2 linked regions of the Homo sapiens genome follow. The protein of the gene in region 1 purifies or fractionates together with the protein of each later gene. This does not show direct contact. Each region holds a gene or a part of one and is shown in the gene's direction. Other genes may lie near its edges.

The links.
Region 2: the proteins of ST8SIA2 (region 1) and TMEM59 purify together in Homo sapiens (affinity purification with mass spectrometry; one large-scale study listed by BioGRID and IntAct). This does not show direct contact.

What each region holds. Positions count from the first base shown.
Region 1 is NC_000015.10:92,463,078-92,467,107, forward strand, and holds part of ST8SIA2 (alpha-2,8-sialyltransferase 8B isoform 1 precursor), read left to right. Parts: intron 1-1,022; coding exon 1,023-1,308; 3' UTR 1,309-4,030. UniProt on the Homo sapiens protein: Catalyzes the transfer of a sialic acid from a CMP-linked sialic acid donor onto a terminal alpha-2,3-, alpha-2,6-, or alpha-2,8-linked sialic acid of an N-linked glycan acceptor through alpha-2,8-linkages.
Region 2 is NC_000001.11:54,029,205-54,032,704, reverse strand, and holds part of TMEM59 (transmembrane protein 59 isoform 2 precursor), read left to right. Parts: intron 1-399; coding exon 400-555; 3' UTR 556-3,500.

The sequences.
Region 1 (4,030 bases):
AAAGGCACACAGATAGTTGGTGACCAAACTGTCACTAAAACTCAGGTCTTGAGTTACTTCCCCCCTCTGAGCATGTTTCTTAGTCTGTGGAATGCACATAGTCTCTTCCTCACTGCATTCTTGGCTAAGGTGCACCCTGCACCCTTCTCTCTTCACTTCTCTTTGTTTCCTCTCGTAACCCTTTAACAGACGACTTGAGGCAGGAAGCGGGGACTCTGTTTCAGAGGTGGATACACCAAGATGTAGTGAGCAGTCTTTAGAAGAAAGAGAGTGGGCAGAACCCAGCCTTGCATGGCAAACCAGTGTCCAGGGCCCCCAGGGTAGTCACCCTTGGTCAGAGATGGGTATCAGAGAGGGGGTCCTGCAGCAGGGACAGCAAGGAAATCTGAAGACGCTCAGGAGGCAAGGATGGAATCAGGAATGCAGATCCGCGAGGGGACGCCCTGTGGGACTCTTGGAAAGGCAGCAGGCACCACACAAGAGCCAGTGGTTTCTCAGAGGTCAGCAAACTGCTGCTCAAGGGCCAAGTCTGGCCACACCCATGTGTGTTGTCTGTGGCCCTTTCATGCTACAGCTACACAACGGTCAAGTAGTATTGGGATTGTTGTGGCCCAAAAGCCAAAACTATTGATCATCTAGCCCCTTACAGAAAAAGGTTGCCAGCTCCTGCTTGAGCTGTCCACGGGCCTGAGTTCAAGTCAAGTGCTGCCCCTTTCTACCCAGGTAACCTTGGGCAAGCCATTTTTCACCTCAGAGCCCCATTTCTGCATCTGTACCCACAACAGGTTTGTTTTGAGAATTTCATAAACTCGTGTCTGTGACCGCATCCAGGCTAAGGAGCAGTTCAGTTGCTTCATGTGCTTGTCACTCCTCTGTGGAGGGAACCAGGGATGTGTAGCTTGATCGGTCCCTGGAGTGGCAGAAGGCAGGCTGCTGGGCAGGATAAAATTTTTGTCTTCCTGGAAAGGATGACTCACAGACCCATGTTTCTTTTCTTTTTTTTTTTTTTTTTTTTTTTCCAGATACTGGCTGACCAACAAAGTCCACATCAAAAGACCCACCACCGGCCTCTTGATGTATACCCTGGCCACACGTTTCTGCAAACAAATCTACCTCTACGGCTTCTGGCCCTTTCCGCTGGATCAGAACCAGAACCCAGTCAAGTACCACTATTATGACAGCCTCAAGTATGGCTACACCTCCCAGGCCAGCCCGCATACCATGCCCTTGGAGTTTAAGGCCCTCAAGAGCCTACATGAGCAGGGGGCTTTGAAACTGACTGTCGGCCAGTGCGATGGGGCCACGTAGGGTGGGCACCCCATGGGACTCAGTGGCTCACATTTCCTGCCAGCTACACCACAGGCAGATGGGAGTCGGGGTGGCACAAACAATAGAACAAGCAGGCTAGTGGTTTTCTTTGTTAAAGTGTAAAACAGTGACCAGAATATATATATCTATACCTGCATATATATATTGACCTGAGTATTTATAACTGTGTGGTGTTCATCTAGCATTAGGCAGATAGGCCACAGGAAGAAGGTGTGGAGAACCCACCTGAACCAGATTGAGACTCAATCCATCTTTGGGGGTGGAAGGACTTGACATGAAAAGAAGCCAGTCCCATGACTTTGGATGACAAACTGCCTCCTGGCTTGGAGGGATCTTTGGGCTCATGGATGAATGGCGAGCCACCTGTTGTCAGCTGCCCCAAGCCTCTGGGATATGTGGATTCGGAGAAAGCTGAGGCCCAGAGGGGACACTCGACCCAGTCTAAAGTGGGTGCCATTCACGGAGGAGAGGGAGGTTGGAGACTTCAACCGGGCAAAGGAGCACAAGGAAACCAAGCAGCAGAGGCCCCATCAGCACAGAGGGCCTCGTTCCACGAACGTAGAGTTTGACTGCCTAAGGGACAGCACGAATGACTCACATGTTTCAGACAGGCCTCCACGGCTATGGAGAGAAGGCTGGAGGAGACACAATGGATGGTTCATGTTCTGGCTTAGCAAGAGCCACCAAGAACTTTGGGTGAAGCAAGCAGATGACAATGAAGAGGAGTAATGTTCCGAATCATGTTTTTGAAAAATCAAGACCTCCTGTTAAGGGCCCACTTGACCCTAGAATAAGGCAGGAGAGTGTCTAAAATCTAGCTGCTTTGGGTGTTTTTTAAAGCAATGTGAGTCCACTGAGGAGGAAGAGACCCTGGGATTTCACCCTCTGGGTTAGTCTCTGTCTCACCCTGTTAGAATGTCACGAGGGACTGTACTGTCCCCTCTGTCACCAGGGAAGCCACAATGAGAGCTTGAAAGGGTGCTGTCAAGATAAATGTCATCCTTCTTAAAATACATATGATTGCCTTTTTGGGTGCCTCACAGAGCCCCAGAGTGTGAGACCTGAAAGAATGTTCAGCATCTAGCTCCATGTCCCTGCAACCACTCTCTGTTTGCCTTCTGCATTCTGCACTCTGCGGGGCCTTTGCAGCCAGACTGCTGTGTCAATGTTACTTTCTTGTCACTTTCCTACCCTGATGGTCACACTAGCCCACCCCAAGCTCCGACATTGAGGTTTTCATCTCTGCAGGGAGAGGTTCCAATGTCCACCCCACCCCCAGGTACCCGCCTCTTCCCACAGAAGCAATTTTAGAATTTTGCAAAATTCTTTTCCCCTTATTGAGATTAATATTTAAGATTAAAAAAAAAATACCCAAAGCCAAATGCAGTTCCAAATAGTGGACATAATCTCCCAGGGAAATCTGGGCTCGAGGCCTACAACTTAGGGGCTGGAATCACAGGTCTCACATAGAGAAATAGCCAGCTTGAATTTGTTAGTCGTATTCCTTCACCTGATGAATAACAGTGTTTTAAAACATATTTGAAAGGTAAGTAAAAAACTACCATCTTGAAGGTGAAGGGAGTTAAGAAAAGTAATCAAGACCTGCTCCTAAGCATATGAGACCAGATGTAATTAATCAATGGCAATGCAGAACAGGACCTTGGCTCTAAATTAATGGTTGACCGGAAGGGATTGGAGGCGGCAGAACCATTAACCCTACACAAGAACACTCCAGCCCAAAACCGTGAGGAAGGTGATATATCTCTGCATTTTCCCTTGTTGTTGCTTGAAGTCTGTGATTGGGGATTTGCGTTATAAAATGAATATTTTAAAAAGCAACAGCCCTAATAGCCTCTGTGGGAACTGAGTGGTTTCGGACTCCTCACAGGCGGTGGAAATAATTAATACCATATTTTATACATCTCCAGAGCCTTTCATCTTGAGGATCTCAAAGACCGTAGAAGACATTTAATTTCTAAAGCTTGAAGTGCCCCGAGGAGCAGGTAGAATTTCCAGCAGGGCCTTGGTGGATTAACCAAGGCCTTGGATTCCAGAATGTTTCATGGTAAGCACTGTGGAGAACCTACATGTCAGGTTCTGGAGTTGGCCCTGAGCTCTATCCACCAAGCCAGCACCCCACCATCCCTTTGCAGGGGAGTCAAAGGGCCAGAACTCCTTGGGGGACCAGAACATGGTTTTCCTTCTGCCTATCTTAGTCATGGCTCCTAAAATTGAAGCTGATATGAGCTGGAGTGCAAGGAGTCCTTCCACCCTGCCTTCAGGTTCTCTCTGGAGAAAGGTTAGAGACCCCAGGACAATCAACATGTGCACCGTTCCCCTCCTCGGCTTGAGTCCTGCACTACCAAAATGGCCTGGCCATTTGATGGCGGAGCTCCAGGGGCCTTGGCTTTCTCTGGCTCATTGTCCTTCTCCATCTGGGCCAATTGTCCTTCCCTGCCCATTCAGAGTTCAATTTGAGCCTCCACTGCAGTTCCTGGTGTGGGCCAGCTGGTGTTGGGTGGCCCCAGGGAGTCACACAGTCTGTACCCGGCCCCGAGATCCTCTGCTGTAACTGCAGGGTCACAGGCATCCCGGGAGAATGGGCCTCCACCCTCAGCCAGCCCTCACTGCTGACAGGCACCCCTCTGTCACCTCCTGCCACCTGTCAGATACCCAGCCTGCCCGCCATCAGCCACCCGAG
Region 2 (3,500 bases), on another chromosome or scaffold:
TCTCGCAGCCTTTTCAAATAGCATCTATCATTTTCCATACATGTTAAGCTAAAACATTTAGGAGCAGAAAAACTTGCACCAAATTATTTTACCACTTGGTAGGAGAGCTAAGATGTTGAAGGACTTGATCACTTAAGGCATCCATAGCTGTTTTTCTTGATACCCAATTGTTATACTCCTGAGGATTTTAACTTGAGACGTGGAACAGCTTTCTTTGGCCATCCATTGGGAGCTGAATCACATATCTACAACACTTTGAGAAAAAGTATTCTTCTTTCTTAAAGTTGTTTATAGAATTTTTTTTACCAACTATTTATAAATTAAATTGTTATTTAAAGACTAACTTGGAGAGGTTCCTAATTATCCAGACTACTAATGTACATTGGTTTTCTTTTGCAGAAGCTGAGTATCTATGGTGACTTGGAGTTTATGAATGAACAAAAGCTAAACAGATATCCAGCTTCTTCTCTTGTGGTTGTTAGATCTAAAACTGAAGATCATGAAGAAGCAGGGCCTCTACCTACAAAAGTGAATCTTGCTCATTCTGAAATTTAAGCATTTTTCTTTTAAAAGACAAGTGTAATAGACATCTAAAATTCCACTCCTCATAGAGCTTTTAAAATGGTTTCATTGGATATAGGCCTTAAGAAATCACTATAAAATGCAAATAAAGTTACTCAAATCTGTGAAGACTGTATTTGCTATAACTTTATTGGTATTGTTTTTGTAGTAATTTAAGAGGTGGATGTTTGGGATTGTATTATTATTTTACTAATATCTGTAGCTATTTTGTTTTTTGCTTTGGTTATTGTTTTTTTCCCTTTTCTTAGCTATGAGCTGATCATTGCTCCTTCTCACCTCCTGCCATGATACTGTCAGTTACCTTAGTTAACAAGCTGAATATTTAGTAGAAATGATGCTTCTGCTCAGGAATGGCCCACAAATCTGTAATTTGAAATTTAGCAGGAAATGACCTTTAATGACACTACATTTTCAGGAACTGAAATCATTAAAATTTTATTTGAATAATTATGTGCTGAAATTTGAGTATCTGATTTTTCTAGACCTTCCCTCCTATTCCTGCCCAACCTAGATAAGAATTATGAAATGTTCTGTGTTTATTGCTATTGCTTTATAATGTGATGGTCAGGGACCATTTTGATGCAAAACTGATCTCTCAGCAGTACATTTGATGTTATTTTGCACAGGCTATAGGTTTTTGTTTGATGAGTGTTTCCAAAGAACTATTTTTCTCTGTTAGATAGCATATCAAGTATAAGGTAAACATATTTTCAGAGAAAACTTCATTTTAACACTAAAAATTAGACTCTTGTGATACAGAATTAAGTATAAATTTTACTTGGCAAAAACTCGTTTTATTTTTACCTGCAATAATACAGAGCTTAATATTAGAATGATATCAGGTCATAATAATAATACACCAGAATCTTTTGAGATGGAATTTTGCTCTTGTTGCTGAGGCTGGAGTGCAATGGTATGATCTTGGCTCACTACAACCTCCACCTCTGAGGTTCAAGCGATTCTCCTGCCTCAGCCTCCCGAGTAGCTGGGATTACAGGCATGCGCCACCACACCTGGATAATTTTGTATTTTTAGTAGAGACGGGGTTTCACCAGGTTGGCCAGGCTGGTCTCGAACTCCTGACCTCAGGTGATCCACCCACTTAGGCCTTCCAAAGTGCTGGGATTACAGGCGTGAGTGACTGTGCCCAGCCTACACCAGAATTCTAATATGATTCACTGTTATTATGCCATAAAATATTAAAAACTTTGTAAAACAATACTTTCCTCAGTCACAGGGGCATTGCTGACAACTGCATCAGTGCTGTTTGACTAAAGAATAAGTTAGTCACTCCTCCTATGGCCTAGTCTTTAGCCTTCCTGAGTCCAAATGAAAAGCAGTTAACAGCTAATCAAGGAAGACTTTGGTCACAAAGTGTAGGTTTTTATTTTTAGTTTGTCTAGATTTGGATGATAGAAAGTTGTGAACACATCCAGATGGGGAAGAAAGGAGGAATTAGCCGTCATTGTCAAGCAGTCATTGTTTCTTTCTTCTTTTTGTTAGAAAACATGGGATAAAACGTGGGGACTCAGCCAGGCACAGTGGCTCACGCCTGTAATCCCAGCACTTTGGGAGGCCAAAGCAGGAGGATCACTTGAGGTCAGGAGTTCGAGACCAACCTGGGCAACATAGCAAGACCCTCTCTGTACAAAAAAATACAAACAAACATGGGGACTATATAAAACATGGGTAGTGGATAGGAGTTACCATTAAAAAAAAATAAAAAGCCCTGTTGTTTCGTCTCCCATCATTAGTGCATACTTAGTTTCCTTAGTCAGGCACAGGTTTAATTGTAATGCATCCAATGAAGCAAACAGAGAAACACAAAATGCTGCTGTCTCACAGGAATCAAAGAGCCCACTGTTAGAAAAGACCCTCCCTTATAAAAACAAAACAAAGAATTATCTAGATCACTTGGGGCCAGGAGTTCAACACCATCCTGGGCAATATAATGAGAATCCCATCTTTTTTTTTTTTTTTAAAGCAACTGTACAGTTGTCCTATATTCTCCACCTTCCCTTGGTTTCATTTCTCTTCGCTTCCTGAATGAGAAGTGCCTGAGATACCTTCATTTCTCTTGAAAGTATTGATCCAAGTTTAGACAAATATCTCCCCTCTTGTTGAGAGAATTCCTTATATGTGAAAATACCAAGACATTCTTGATATTTAGCAGGCACTCAAATATTTGTCTCCTCTTTTTTAGCATAATTAAGCCAGACTGATGTTTGCATTTGAGTATCATCAGCATGAGTAACCATTTTAATCTCTCTTCCCTTAACTACTTGTTCTACACTAGAGTCTAGGGTCAGGGTACGTACAGTGATAAAGATTGAGATAATGGGAAATATAGTCTTCTGTTTGGGAAGCTGGATTGTAGTGTTGATTTTCTGACTCCTTGTGGTAATTAAATTCTGAAGCACAGAATCTACTTTTGAGAAGAAATATTTTACTTTTGAAAAAAAATCCCCAAAATATATACAGCATAAAAATGTTTCCGATCTTGAAAATCCCAACCAAAGCAACAAAACTGAGCTTCCAAGCCCCTTCTCCTAAAGTAACAGTTTTGCCCTTCTTGGATGTGCCTAACTTTACTTAGCTCCTTGTTTCCATAAAACAGTCATAATCTTATTTCCTACCACACAGAAAGCATCTTGAGAATCTGGTCTTGGTCCTAGGCAAATTCTCAAGACCGTTGGGTCTCTGGTTCAAACCTCCCAGACTTCTAAGGTCTTTCTTGGCTCAGGTCCCTCATCTAAGAGACATGCTAATTCAGGCAATTACAAAAGCAGTACTAATCACCATAATGAATGATCTGGGCCTAGGTTCCAAGTTTTCTCACAAAACTTCATGGGCACCTTTCATTTGTGATATGTTTTGTAGTAAATCAGAAATTACTAGATGATCTGGTCAATCTTATC